4 linked regions of the Homo sapiens genome follow. The protein of the gene in region 2 purifies or fractionates together with the protein of the main gene of each other region. This does not show direct contact. Each region holds a gene or a part of one and is shown on either strand. Other genes may lie near its edges.

Region 1 (3,500 bases), on a different chromosome or scaffold from region 2:
AAACTATGAGCCTATGAACATCAATATTCTATAAACTATTCTCGAAAGCTCAGTTTTTAAGGTATGAAACTGGTAAACTGTAACTCTGAGTAAACTTAATTCTTTGGTTTCATAAAGACAAGAAAGGACTGACTTATTCAGAAAAACCCCACTGCCATGAATCCCCATAAAGTCCTTACCTCATAGTCTGTTGTGATCTGGATGGCTCCATCATGAATCCCCTCTAATTTTTTTGCAGTAAGTTTGACTCTGAAGACTGCAAAATAGCCTGAAGCTAATGTTACCTGTAGATAGTAGAAATGGTATCATTCATTAGCCTTGTTAGTTGAAGTTTCCTATTAAAATGGACATGAAGGGTGTAGCGATAAAATGACTAACAAATCCTAACATATACCAGTATGACACTGAATTACCATATCACTGTGTACAAATATCTCAAAATAGTGTCCATCCCTTGATATTTCTCTACTACACTTGTTCCATGGGCCACTGAAAAAGCTGGTTCCTGAAAGAGGGAGGGGTGTGGTCCTCTTGCTAATAAAGCTCCTCACTCTTTACCCATGGACCTGTATGGCCAAAGGGGCTGGAGCAGAGGGACACAGCCTTCCACCAACCTTTCAGGCACACTGGAGCCACAATTGTATACACAGCTGGCTCTGCTTCAAGCTGTGGATGTCACTCTGTAATGTTAATATTCATATCTTCAGGGCAGCTGAGGTCAGATATAACAAAACACCAGACCTATGGCATTCCACGGAAACGTGTTTGTCAACACTCTCTGTGTATAAGGACACTTGCTTTTCCTTTTGTAAAACTGCCCCAAGAAATTCTATTCTAACCTGCAGATGAGATTATCTGATGCTCCTTCTCACAGATTGTGATTCTAATTCTTTTCCCAGTAGGTATAAACTCCAAGTTCCCCTTTCAGTACTGGTGAGTGCTGAAACTAATAAATTTGTTTTCTCTTGTTTAGCGCTCTCTGACAACCAACTGTAACATGTTTATTAGACAGGTAAAAATATGTGGGCAGACTCACAGTGATCAAACAATGTTTGCCTCACTGATACTGAGGCAGTATCTGGACAGACGTATTATTGCATAATTGAAAATATTTTCTACCAATGTTCAGGGCCATCTCTTTTTCCCAGTAAACTCAATGAACACAAGGTTAGTTTAGTACCCATGGGAATCTCTCCTGTAATGACACTTGTGTTACAAAAAGATAATTAAAAATTTGTGTGTTATAGAACTTTTTATGACAAGGCAGAATTAAACCCCTTTGGGTTTCAGTGCCCTCATCATAAAAATAGGGGGTTGAATTACATTACCTATAAGGTCCTTTTAATAGCAAGTAACCAACACTATTATGAACTGCATAAAAATAATAGTGATACATGTAGCATAGCAATGATCTTCCACTTGCAGTTTAGACATCCATCTTACTTTAAGGAGACAATAGAAAGTTTACTTACCGATGATTGATCTGATAAAGAGGATTTTTCAAACTCTGGCAGGCTTGAAATTATTGTAGTTCTATTGCCTCTTTCCACAGCTACAAGTTCTATTGATAAACCGTCTCCTATGATATGCCAACTTTTTATAGCCAACTTTAAAAAAAGATATGAAAATGATTATCACAACACAAGCATAAAATCCTTAAATGTGATTTAGAATAAAAACAGGTTTTTACCTCAATTGGATTGCTGTTTATAATTGCAAATAAAATATTACTTGCTTCTGTAGCACTCAGTACTCCAAAATCTATGAAACGTTCCTCTATTTTGGGGGGCAATACAAAGTACTGGAAAGATATAAAAGAACCAGATTAAAAAAAAGTCACATTGATCTAACAATATTATGAAGAGAAAGTAACTATATTAAAGATGTATTAAAGTTCCCCCCAAAATTAGCTGGGCATGGTGGTGTGCACCTATAATCCCAGCTACTCGGAAGGCTGAGCTCAGGCAGGAGAATCGCTTGAACCCGCAAGCCAAGATTGCACCACTGCACTCCAGCTTGGGAAACACAGCGAGACTCCATCTAAAAAAAAAAAAAATTACAGTTCTATGCTTTCCTATGCTTTTGTATATATGCATAAAACCACACATTTATACGACATAGTTGAGGGCTTTGTATGACGAAAGTCTTTTGAGTAATCAGAAATGAAAACAGCCATGGCTTCTGCTGAGTTGCTATTCTTCCTCTGAGGGCACATGAAAGAGGCAGGAAGCTAAACTACTAAGAGAGGTTTAGTGGAACCCTAGGGGATCGGGCAAAAAGCATGTGGTCTCAGCAAGCATCACCAATGATCACTGAAACAAAATAACTGAAGCAGGAGCGAGACATTACTGAAGGTCCCTCCAGCTCTAAAATTCTAATCGATGCCAACTATTTAAAGGGCTACATTTCTAGATGTCCTAGCTTTCTTTTTATCTTTCCTAACAGTTTTCTCTCTTATCTAAGCTTCTTTCATTGATCACTCTCAAGATAGCTTTGTTTGGAATTTTTCCCCCTGCTTATTTTCTGTACCAGGAGTACCTTCATTGTTTCCTTCTGTGTCATATATAATCTTCCAACTTTGCGTCTTTACTACCTTATTTTCTTCTTTACTATCTGATTCTCTTCTTTGTCCCGATATTTCTTGGTTTTGATCATCTCTTCCCTACGTATATCCCTCTTCACCTTCCTTGTATTATTCTTTTTCTACCTATCATTTTTCTATTTAGTTCTTTTCTATATTCCCCATTATTACAATAGTTTAAAAGCATATCCAAGAGAAAGCAGAATGTGGAAAAGATCTAAGTAGAGACTGTAACTAGAGAAGTCAACTGTATCACAAGAGAGAGCTGCCAGAAAAGGTAAAAACTAGTTACCTGGAAAGGTAAAAACTGACTAGGAGAATTAGATCAATTTGCAGAGCACAAATAATGGCAAACCGTATGTAACACGACTGCCTAATAAGATCTGAAAACATTAAAGGTGGGCAGGGAGTTTAAATGTTAAAGATGGATAATATACTTACATCTAAAAAGCCTGTGTATACCCGCACGGGTAAATGAAATTTAGAAGCATTGGTAATAAGTAAAATGTTGTTATCAATGTGCATGGATGATGTGGAAGGCATAAAAAGCAGGGTAAAAATGTATCCTGATTCATTAGGAAGAATTAAGACTGGTTTGCTGAAGTTGTGAACCTGAGAAATGACAGAAGAGAAAAAAAACAAAGTGTCAGCATCACCTAGTTGGTAGACCAGGAAAATTAAAAGTATGAGGGCTCCTGGACATACTTTAAACATTGTTTTGGCTTCTTCTGGTAGCAACACATCGTGAATGAGGATCGCAAAACTGAAAGTGTTAGTAAGGTAAATTGGCCTTTCCACAGGATCAGCAGGGCTGTCTCGGATGTGAAATAATGTTGCAGCATGATCAAATCCCAAATAACTATTAAAAAAAACAACAAGAACAAAATAAATCATTTTTATTTCCATGTGTTAATTTAAA
Region 2 (3,500 bases):
TGCCATTCACCGGCTGTGTGACTTGAGCAAATTACCGAGCCTTTCTGTGCCTCAGCTTCCTCATTTGTAAAATGGGGAAGATCGGTGTCTATCTGATTCAGTTGCTTACATGAGTTAACAAATACGGAGAGTACAGAGGGGTTCCAGGCAGAGAGTCAGTGCTGTGGAGCAGCGCGCTGTTATCATCTGAGCGCCGGCATGGCACAGCAGGCACCCATGGCCATCCAGGGTCTCGGGAGCTAAGGGGGACCTTGCGGGGTAAAGCACCAGCCCCTTCCCACAGAGGCTCTCCCAGTTCCTAGATGTCCTGCCTTGTGGCCAGCTCACACCAGAGCAGAGGGGTCCGCTGGAGCTGCCAGGCATGAGAAGCCCCAACTGGGGACCCCTCTCTGCAGGACCCAGCTGTCGGGCTCTCTGCCTAGCAGTGGCCTCACCTGTGGGGCTCCAGGAGCTGTGGGCACACAGATCCGTTCCCCTTCTGACTGCTGCTTCCACGCTTCGCCTCGGGTGGCTCCTGCAGCTCCTGCTGCTCCGGCATCCCCAGCAGCCCTGGCCCAGATGTGAGCTGCTCAGATAGCCCCAGCCCCGATGCCTCGTCCTCGGCCTCCTGGGAACTGTCTTCTAGGCCCCTGGACAAGATACAAGCTGTTCACCTGGGACGGCCCTGCAGGGTGCCTCCCCTCCTAGACGGGCGGAGTGGGCCTTGAAGAATCCCTCGCCCTGCAGGCCGCCACCCTGCTTCCTCCAGCCGGTGTCCTCCACCCTGCTTCCTCCATGCGGCTCCCTCCACCCTGCATCCTCCACCCTGCTCTCTCCACCCTGAGTCCTCCACCCTGCTTCCTCCACGTGGCGTCCTCCACCCTGAGTCCTCCACCCAGCTCCCTCCACCCTACATCCTCCACCCTGCATCCTCCACCTGGCTTCCTCCATCCTACGTCCTCCACCCAGCGTCCTCCACCCTGCATCCTCCACCCTGCATCCTCCACCCTGAGTCCTCCATCCGGTGTCCTCCACCCTGCATCCTCCACCCTGCGTCCTCCACCCTGCATCCTCCACCCTGCATCCTCCACCCTGCGTCCTCCACCCAGCGTCCTCCACCCTGCATCCTCCACCCAGTGTCCTCCACCCTGCATCCTCCACCCAGTGTCCTCCACCCTGCATCCTCCACCCTGCATCCTCCACCCTGCGTCCTCCACCCAGTGTCCTCCACCCTGCGTCCTCCACCCTGCATCCTCCACCCTGCATCCTCCACCCAGCGTCCTCCACCCTGCATCCTCCACCCTGCATCCTCCACCCTGAGTCCTCCACCCAGTGTCCTCCACCCTGCATCCTCCACCCAGTGTCCTCCACCCTGCATCCTCCACCCTGCGTCCTCCACCCAGCGTCCTCCACCCGGCGTCCTCCACCCTGCTTCCTCCACCCGGCTTCCTCTACCCTGCTTCCTCCATCCTGGGTCCTCCACCCTGCAGGCCACCACCCTGCTTCCTCCATCCTGGGTCCTCCACCCTGCAGGCCACCACCCTGCTTCCTCCATCCTGGGTCCTCCACCCTGCATCCTCCACCCTGCATCCTCCACCCTGCGTCCTCCACCCAGCGTCCTCCACCCTGCATCCTCCACCCAGTGTCCTCCACCCTGCATCCTCCACCCTGCATCCTCCACCCTGCATCCTCCACCCAGCGTCCTCCACCCTGCATCCTCCACCCTGAGTCCTCCACCCAGTGTCCTCCACCCTGCATCCTCCACCCAGCGTCCTCCACCCTGCATCCTCCACCCTGCATCCTCCACCCTGCGTCCTCCACCCAGCGTCCTCCACCCTGCATCCTCCACCCAGTGTCCTCCACCCTGCATCCTCCACCCTGCATCCTCCACCCTGCGTCCTCCACCCAGCGTCCTCCACCCTGCATCCTCCACCCAGCGTCCTCCACCCGGCTTCCTCTACCCTGCTTCCTTCAGCAGCACAGTCAGGACTGTGGTTGGGGTTCAGCCTGTGGCCAGGGTCAGGGCGCACGGCTATAACCCAGGGCTGGGGTTCAGGCCATAGCTGGAGTGCAGTAAGGCGAATGACCCAGGCAGACCCTGCACCCACTGTCCCAGGCTGTGGGGGTGCTGAGGGAGTACTAAGGTGTCTGTCCCAATTCCCATTCTGATCCCTGCTTCTCCAGAAGGCCTTCCCCAAAGGCCGAAGCCACAGCCCCTTCCCCTTCCCGCCCTCCCACAGTCATCAGGGTTCCCCACCCACGCTGTGCTCTGCCGCTGTGAACACGCACACCCCACCGAACCCAGGGCCCAGGAAACTCCGGAAACAGCCTCTGCATGGAAGAAAATATCCGCTTTTCTTTCCTTTACTACTCCAGCTTCCCTCAGCCCCGGCGCACCAGGACCACCAAGTCCAAGAATCCCAAAACAGAAGTGCTGCAGACACCACTCGATTGGTAAACCAACTCTCTCATCTCCCAGATAGAGAAACCGAGGCCCGGGGAGGCCTGGGACTTGTCCAGAATCAGGCGGAGCCTGTGAACTCCGTCTCCCGCCCTGTGGCCCACAGCGCCCTCTCCTCCCACTGCTGCCGAGGCCGAATCCGGTTCTGTAGAGCATGTACTCAGAACACTTCTCCTCCCCGGGCCCTCCAGCCCCTGCCTCCCACCCCAGCCATCAATATCACATCAGGGCAAAGGCTCGAAGCCACGGGGGTGCTCCACAGGGCTGCCCTCGGGCCGCCGGCCTGGAAGCGGAACTGACCTCACTTCCTCGTACTTCTTGTCACGGTAAAACTCTCTCTTTTTGATGAGGTAGATGAGTACCAGGTCGCAGAAGAAAGCACCCTGCAAAACAGGGGTTCCTGATTCAGAATCCTAGACCTCTGAGAGCACTGTTCATTTAGGGCACTTTGCCCCTTCCATCCTGCAACAGCCCCTAAAGGTGGCATCACTGTCCCCATTTAACAGATGAGGAAACTGGGCTCAGCAAGGGGCACCCTTGTCCGACACCACAGAGCTGGTCCATGGTGGAGCTCAAGCTGGACTGGAGCTCCCCCGATCCCACAGGCCAGGCACTCCCCGACCCCGCACCACCCGGACCCCATCCAATCGTTCCTTCAACACATTTGCTGGGCACCCAGCACGTGCCAGTGTCTGCACCGAAGTACGGAGAGGATCTGGACAAGAGAGACCTCCTGGGGACTCTCCCTCTGGTGCAGGAGACAGGCGTGTCGATGACGACCCACATAGGACTTCACTCAGCCTGGGGAGGGTCCCTATTCAGTCCTTAAGGACTAAAGAGGAGTTTATACAAGACAAAGAGGTGGAAGGACATTACGGAGGGAGGAACAAGCCTGTCACATCTGGGAAATGCCGCAGGGCCTGTGCGGGAAGAGGGAGATGCGCTTCTGGAGAAGGGGATGGGGACTGGCCTGTTAGGCTTCTTAGAATGTTTCCGAGGCATTGGTCCTCATCCTTTAGGTGAGGCGGAGGCACCACAGCCCGAATTTTGGCATTTAGAA
Region 3 (3,500 bases), on a different chromosome or scaffold from region 2:
ATTTTTAACTAATCTTTATTCTCATTTGTTCCTGATTTTCTTTGCTTTCCTTTCCCTGAAACTTTTTATCCTTACTTTCTGCCCTGGCATCACATATTTAGACCTCTATAACATTTGATCCCTTACAGGCTCACAGACTTCCCCAGAACAGTGAAAGAAAAAAATTATTTTACTTTTCTATCTAATAATTTTAAAGAGAAATGAACAGAAGTCAATGTCTACAGCAAGAAAAATAACTCAAACAGATTAATCATCTTTCTACTTATGTTTCCTGTGGTAAATGAAAACATTTCACATTTATGAACTTACATTATCTTTCTGGGAAAGCAGTTACTGAGTTTGGATCTTAACAATTATCAATACAGTAAAATAACCTAAAATTCAAACATATTATCATTTGCTGACAAGCACTAATGAAAGCATAAAACTTTAGTTCAAAAAATGTCAATATTAACAATAGGAATATAAAAGAGGGTTTTAATTTACATGTAGTTTTTCTCTGATGAAGACATCAATCGTTACTGACTCTTCAGACTTACTTTGATGTCCTCCCCAAAACCCTTTAAGAAACAAGCCAAACTAATTTGAGGTCACAATTATGCATATTTTCCTGTGTACTTAACTCGCTTATTCACAAATATGAATCCTGGTACAGATAGGAGTTCTGATTCCATTAAACAGGACAGAACAGCAGAGACCAATTCTGAGACTTGATTATAGAGCTTGGGTTTCTCAAACAAAGATAGGAGAAGAGCTTCTACTTAAATGTATTATGTTTTTTCCTAAGAGAAATATCTGAGTTGTATTAACTGGTAAAGTTATTTATTTATTACTTTAAAAGTCAAGAAGGGCCGGGTGCAGTGGCTGATGCCTGTAATCCCACCACTTTGGAGGCCAAAGCAGGCAGATCACTTGAGGTCAAGAGTTCGAGACCAGCCTGACCAACATGGTAAAACCCTGTCTGCACTAAAAATACAAAAACTAGTCGGGCACAGTGGCATTGGCCTGTAATCTCAGCTACTTGGGAAGCTGAGGCAGGAGAATTGCTTGAATCTGGGAGGCAGAGGTTGCACTGAGCCCAGATCGTGCGCCACTATACTCCAGCCTGGGTGACAGAGTGAGACTCTGTCTCAAAAACAAAAAAGTCAGGAAGTAACACATACCTACTTTTGCAAAATAAGTATGTATTACCAATTTTATGAATTCTCATTCAGCTCAAACTTCAATTCCAAAGGCTGATTTTATTCTGTGTAACTAACTTCTAATTTCTATTATGAAACCCAAATAGAAATACCAAACGGAGAGTTGTAAAATATAAACAACAGTATACTTAATGGGTATCAGTGCCCTAAAATCAAGGTACAACTTACATGCTTAAAGTGTCAATATTAGAATGCTGTACATTCAGTTCAGACTTGACATTTACATTCTCATTAAGCTACACCTATTTGCTTAGTTTCGGGTTTCCATAAAAGATGTTCTCCATTATCCAACCTGGTAGATAAAATGATGCTATGAACTAATGAAGTAAAACATATAAATACTAAACAAGTACTAAATGATCTAACCAAACATTTACTAACTCTTTTTATATCCCACACCACTCACAGAAACTTTGAACACATACATTTACTGTAGAAACTTCCTCCTCCTCTGTTTCTTCCTGTGGAATATCATCGACAGGAGAGCTACCCTGAAACACATCTACTTCTTCACTTGAATCATTTTCCTTAGTAGCTGCTTGTTTGGAGCGTCCTACACGGCTAGAGTAAAACACATGTAAAACACAATGAACGTTCCAATCTTTCAGTAGATTACCTCGTTAGAAGAAATGTTTCACGTATTTCATCGTCATATCATCTTTACCCTCAGTTACTTTATGAGACAAGAACATTTCTTTAATATTCTGAATCCTAAACCAGCATTTAATCATAGAATGTTACATATTATCTACCAAGTAACAACAAAAAAATGTGACTGAGAACATACCATAACCTAAAGTCTGCTCTTCCTTTCATCTTTCCTAACACAGTAAAAGGCATCTATGTCTACTGAGCTGCTCAAAGCAGAAAGGAATTCTGCTTTGAATATAGTGTACCTGTCTTTGTCTGGCCTTATAGATTCTTATGGAGATCTCAAATCCATTCACTTCTCTCCACATCTCCATTGCTACCACCTAATTCAAACCATTCCCATCTCTTGCCTCTTCTCTTTACAAAGTTATCTTTTAAAAGTACAAGAACAGATGATGTTACTGCTCCCTACTGAGCTGAGAATAATTTTGTAAACCTCCTTAACAAAGTATACAAGGAACAGTAGATGGTCCTTGCCTACCTGTCCACTCTCATCTCTTTCTGCTCCCCAACTCCCCACAACTACAATCCAACAAACCCTTGCCTTCCTTTAGCTTTCTGATTTTGCCAAGTTATTTTTCACTTCAGAAACTTCAAATATAGTGTTCATGCCACCTGTTCTCTGCCTGTCTAGCCCCTACTATTCTCAAGATATCAACTCATTGTTACTTTTAAAGAAAAAACTTCCTCACTCCATTAGATGGTGGAAAACAAGAACCACGAGCCCATGAAAACAAGTACCACGTCTGTTTTGTGTCCCTAGCACCTAGTACTCTCTGAAACACAGGAGGCATCAAAAAATATGTAATAGAACCATCTAATCAAATGGATCCCTCTTGATAAATCTTTATTTTTTAAAATTAGAAACATAACATCACTTCTATAAGCAATCCAAAATATGTATTTTTTTAACTCACGCTCGAACCAAACAATTTTTTTACTTGGTTTGGTTTTTCGAGATTAATGAAACTATAGAAATAACATGAAACATAATGACAATCTTTTTCAATTTCACTGAGGTCAGAACAAGAAAAAGAAACAAATCCTAACATATGTTAGTATACTAGCTCTAGAAAGAGCTTCCCAGTGAAAGGAAGATAGGCTTCCAAGACAGACTACAGAATCTTCTTCCATATCAATTTTTTTTTTTTTTTAAGAAATACTTGTTTGGTTTAGAACATTCATAGGACTTGTGTAATTTTAGGAGAGCACAATAATCATTTAAACCCTGAATTTTATGATGTCCAAATATAAACAAACTAAAATTATGAGGTTTGTTATTTCCTTGTTACATCATTCATGTGTATTTTATTAAATAAAGGATTCCTTAAGAATCCTTTGTTTAGAAATAGTGATTTGGTTGAATCCAAACACATTTATAAAGCTGCCACAAAAATGTACTTACCTTTACTTTTAACCTGATAGAAAAATTACATGGAAGATGGCATGAAGTACTGGCTAGACACCCAGGCAACTTTTCCTCTTCCTGTGGAATACACAGGAATAGGAAAATCTCTAAGATAATTGAGTATTTAATGACAGTACATTGGCAACTCTGAAAAGTCGAGCCATGATGTAATTATGTATGGGTGGGATTACTCTCAGAAAAAGTGTTAAATTTCTGACTAATAGAAGACATGCTACTCT
Region 4 (3,500 bases), on a different chromosome or scaffold from region 2:
TAAAATCTGAGGTATATTTTGAAAACAGAATCAACAAGGTTAGCCAGTGGACTGAATTTTCCCTGAGAACAGGAGAAAGGTATGAAGGAAGCCCCTAAGTTTTTGGTCTGAGCAACTGGAAAGATAGCTTTATTATTTCCTGAAATGAGGAAGACTGGGAAGAATAAATTTGGAACAGCGTTAAGGAGTTTGGTTTTGGCCTTTTGTTCTAGAGCGCCCTTTAGACATCTAAGTGGAAATGTCAAGTAAGCTGTTGAATAAAGGAGTCTGGAGTTCAGGGCAAAGGTGACGGGTAATTCAACAGGAAAAGGGCAGTCTTCTCAAGATATGAAGCTGAAGAACTGGATATCCGTGTAAATATGAACTTTGATCCCTACCTCACACTACAAAGAAAATTTAACTTGAAATGAATCATAGACCTAATTGTAAAGCCTAAAACTATAAAATATCCAGGAGACGTCACAGGAAAAGATCTTTATATATTTGAGAGCCAACTATTCAAAGATTAAGCCATAGAAAACAAAAACAAACAGTTTATTGAGAACACTTGAAATCTAACAATAGAAATCAACATTGAAAAGACTGGCAAACTTAAGGGCAATTTTTAAATGCTAAGATAAAAAGGCAAAGAGAGAAAATATTTTTAACACATGAGAGATGGAGTTAAAGAGTTTATCATACAAAGGGTTTGCACAAAATCTAAAAAACAAAATTCTAAAATGAACAAAATGTGTATACAAACTTTTACTTTAAAAATACAATTACAAGGTTGGGCATAAGGGCTCACACCTGTAATCCCAGCACTTTGGGAGGTCAAGGCGGGCGGATCACTTGAGGTCAGGAGTTTGAGACCAGCCTGGCCAACATGTTTCTATTAAAATACAACCCTGTTTCTACTAAAAGTACAAAAATTAGCCGGGCATGGTGGTATGCACCTGAAATCCCAACTACTCCAGAGTCTGAGGCACGAGAAGAGCTTGAACCTGGGTGGCGAAGCTTGCAGTGAGCTGAGATCATGTCACTGCACTACAGCCTGGGTGACAGAGCAAGATTTTGTCTCAAAAAAAAAAAAGAAAAGAAAAAAGGAAAAAAGAAAAACAAAAACAACCACAAGATAAAACTTTACGTTACAACGGAGAGGTGGTATTTTTAAGCAAGCGAAACTTGTTTTATAAATGTTAATTCAGAGGTAGTATAACACGACTAGAGTATTTGCCCTGTGGCCAATCTCCCTGAGTTCAAAACCAAGCACCAAGCTCTGTGACTTCCCATAAATCCCTTACTCTGTACATTTAACTCTTAAGAGTTTCCTCATCTATCAAAGGGGAAATTCCATCTCACAGGGTTGTTATGAGGATTAAATTAGTTACTACATGTAAGATGCTTAGTATTGTGCCTGGCTCTAGTAAACAATCAAAAAAATTGGCAGTTATTTCAGTTGTTCAATTCTAATAAAGACACAGGTGGAATTAATATTTTTAGACCTTATTCATGGCAATATATACTGGCCCAACCATTTTAGTGGGTTGTTTGGTATTTTGTGCCAGAGCCATCAAAATATTCATTCTCTTATTGACTTAGTAATTCCACTGCTAACAATCTTTAAGGCCTTTGCAGAAAACCATCATTGATAATAGCTAAGTACTGTTAGCAACCTAAATATGCAGCAACAGAAAAATAGGTTGTGGCATATCAATTCATTGGTCCTTTATACAACCATTTAAATTGAGGGCTTTAAAATTAGGTAGGAATAAGTTTTTTAGAGATCACCTGTACAGTAGAGTTGAAACATTATGAAATATTTGTATAGAAGACATGCTTATAAGGAAAAATTTCCAAAAGTTGGGAAGAGGGTGCTGATTAAGGAACATTTTTGGGGCCGGGTGTGGTGGTGCATGCCTGTAATCCCATCACTTTTGGAGGCTGAGATGGGAGGATTGCTTGAGCTCGGGTGTTCAAGACCAGCCTTGGCAACATGGTGAAACCCCATCTCTACAAAAAAATACAAAATTCAGCCATACGCAGTGGTGCATGCCTGTAGTCCCAGCTACTAGGGAGGCTGAGGTGGGTGCACTACTTGAGCCTAGGAGGTGGAGGCTGCAGTGAGCCGTGACCACGCCACTGCACTCCAGCCTGGGCAACAGAGCAAGAACCTGTCTCAAAGAAAAAAAAAAGGTATATTTTTGGGGTACCCACCCTGATCCATTAATTTATCTTTTTATTCTTATTGTAGCACCATGGTATTTAACAACTAAAATTTTAGTATGATTTTAAAATATCAAAAGGTAACTGATCACTAAAGGAGGTCTTTTTTCTTCAGAAGAATACTACCTAAGTCCCTTGGCTGAAAACAGTAAAAAGGGAATCATGAAAAGTTTCAAGGGAATACGGCTGCATTGCGCTTTCCATTGCCCACTTTATCACATCTGTTCCCACTGTACCAGCACCTGGTACACAGTAAGCACTAGATAAATATTTGATGTACTTCTCTGGCAATGTGACCTGTTACATAATATTGAGATTGTAAACTTCTGCTTAAAATCCAGTTGTGAATTTCTGTATTTCAAAAGAAAACAGGCAATATTTTCTTCTCATCCTTAAAAAATCAGTTTTCAGACACCATAAATAAACCTCAACCATTCATGCACATCCCTTCTGAAGGTTTCTTTGAATACAAAACCTATAAACATTTAGACATTAGGTATAAAATCAATTTAATTGTATATTTATTATAACTGAATTTCATGAAACCTAAAATGACAGCAATTATAACATCCATCCTGATATCAGAGATGTTAAAATATGAAAAACCAAAGTTGTATCTTCAAAACCATGAACTACAAAGCACTGATGTAACTCCATAAGCTGCATGTGAGAGGTTTGGGGCATGAAAATCAATGTATCTATTTATTCTTATCAAAACCACCTTTGAACTGTCCTCTGGCTTGAAGGGTATAAATATTTCTATAAATTAAAGTTGTAAAACAGTGTAATATTAAGCAGTGTGCATGCTGTGATGAGTAGGATAAAATACAAACCAGATGTTTCAGACAGACATAAAAAAGCGGCAGTATATTTTTACAGCTTATGTTATTCTTATTTAAATGTAAGTTTCCAAAAAAAAAAAAACTTAACTGTGTAATTATAAATTTCACTCAAAATTTAAAGAACACATCAAAATACAACAAAAGCTTTTTCACACTCTCTTGAAATAATGCAAACGCTACTGTGAAAGACAAAACATGACATTTTTTATGCTTTCCCTAGAAAAATACAAATTGTAATCTAAATTTGAGTTACCCTACATAGTATACGGAACTATGAAATCCCTTAAAACCTCACCTCAGAGCTATTGATGGCCAAAGCTTGAAGTAGCAGCTTAGTGGCATCAAGATGAAGGCCGTAATGAATCAAAAGGTTGGCCAAGTTGACAAGAGGAACATCTTGGTATTGAAGTGGAGCTAAATTCAAAGCCCTCTGAAGACAGGCAATAGCAAAAG

The links. The genes of interacting proteins can lie anywhere in the genome.
Region 1: the proteins of P2RX5 (region 2) and TMEM131 purify together in Homo sapiens (affinity purification with mass spectrometry; 2 studies listed by BioGRID and IntAct, with this or other methods). This does not show direct contact.
Region 3: the proteins of P2RX5 (region 2) and PDS5B purify together in Homo sapiens (affinity purification with mass spectrometry; 2 studies listed by BioGRID and IntAct, with this or other methods). This does not show direct contact.
Region 4: the proteins of P2RX5 (region 2) and TTC17 purify together in Homo sapiens (affinity purification with mass spectrometry; 2 studies listed by BioGRID and IntAct, with this or other methods). This does not show direct contact.

The regions. Positions count from the first base shown.
Region 1 is NC_000002.12:97,810,949-97,814,448, forward strand, and holds part of TMEM131 (transmembrane protein 131 precursor), read right to left. Parts: intron 3,441-3,500; coding exon 3,287-3,440; intron 3,194-3,286; coding exon 3,023-3,193; intron 1,802-3,022; coding exon 1,691-1,801; intron 1,608-1,690; coding exon 1,473-1,607; intron 285-1,472; coding exon 180-284; intron 1-179.
Region 2 is NC_000017.11:3,679,156-3,682,655, forward strand, and holds part of P2RX5 (P2X purinoceptor 5), read right to left. Parts: intron 2,824-3,500; coding exon 2,741-2,823; intron 630-2,740; coding exon 435-629; intron 1-434.
Region 3 is NC_000013.11:32,771,452-32,774,951, reverse strand, and holds part of PDS5B (sister chromatid cohesion protein PDS5 homolog B), read right to left. Parts: intron 1,764-3,500; coding exon 1,628-1,763; intron 1-1,627. UniProt on the Homo sapiens protein: Regulator of sister chromatid cohesion in mitosis which may stabilize cohesin complex association with chromatin. May couple sister chromatid cohesion during mitosis to DNA replication.
Region 4 is NC_000011.10:43,407,420-43,410,919, reverse strand, and holds part of TTC17 (tetratricopeptide repeat protein 17 isoform 1 precursor), read right to left. Parts: coding exon 3,343-3,500; intron 1-3,342. UniProt on the Homo sapiens protein: Plays a role in primary ciliogenesis by modulating actin polymerization.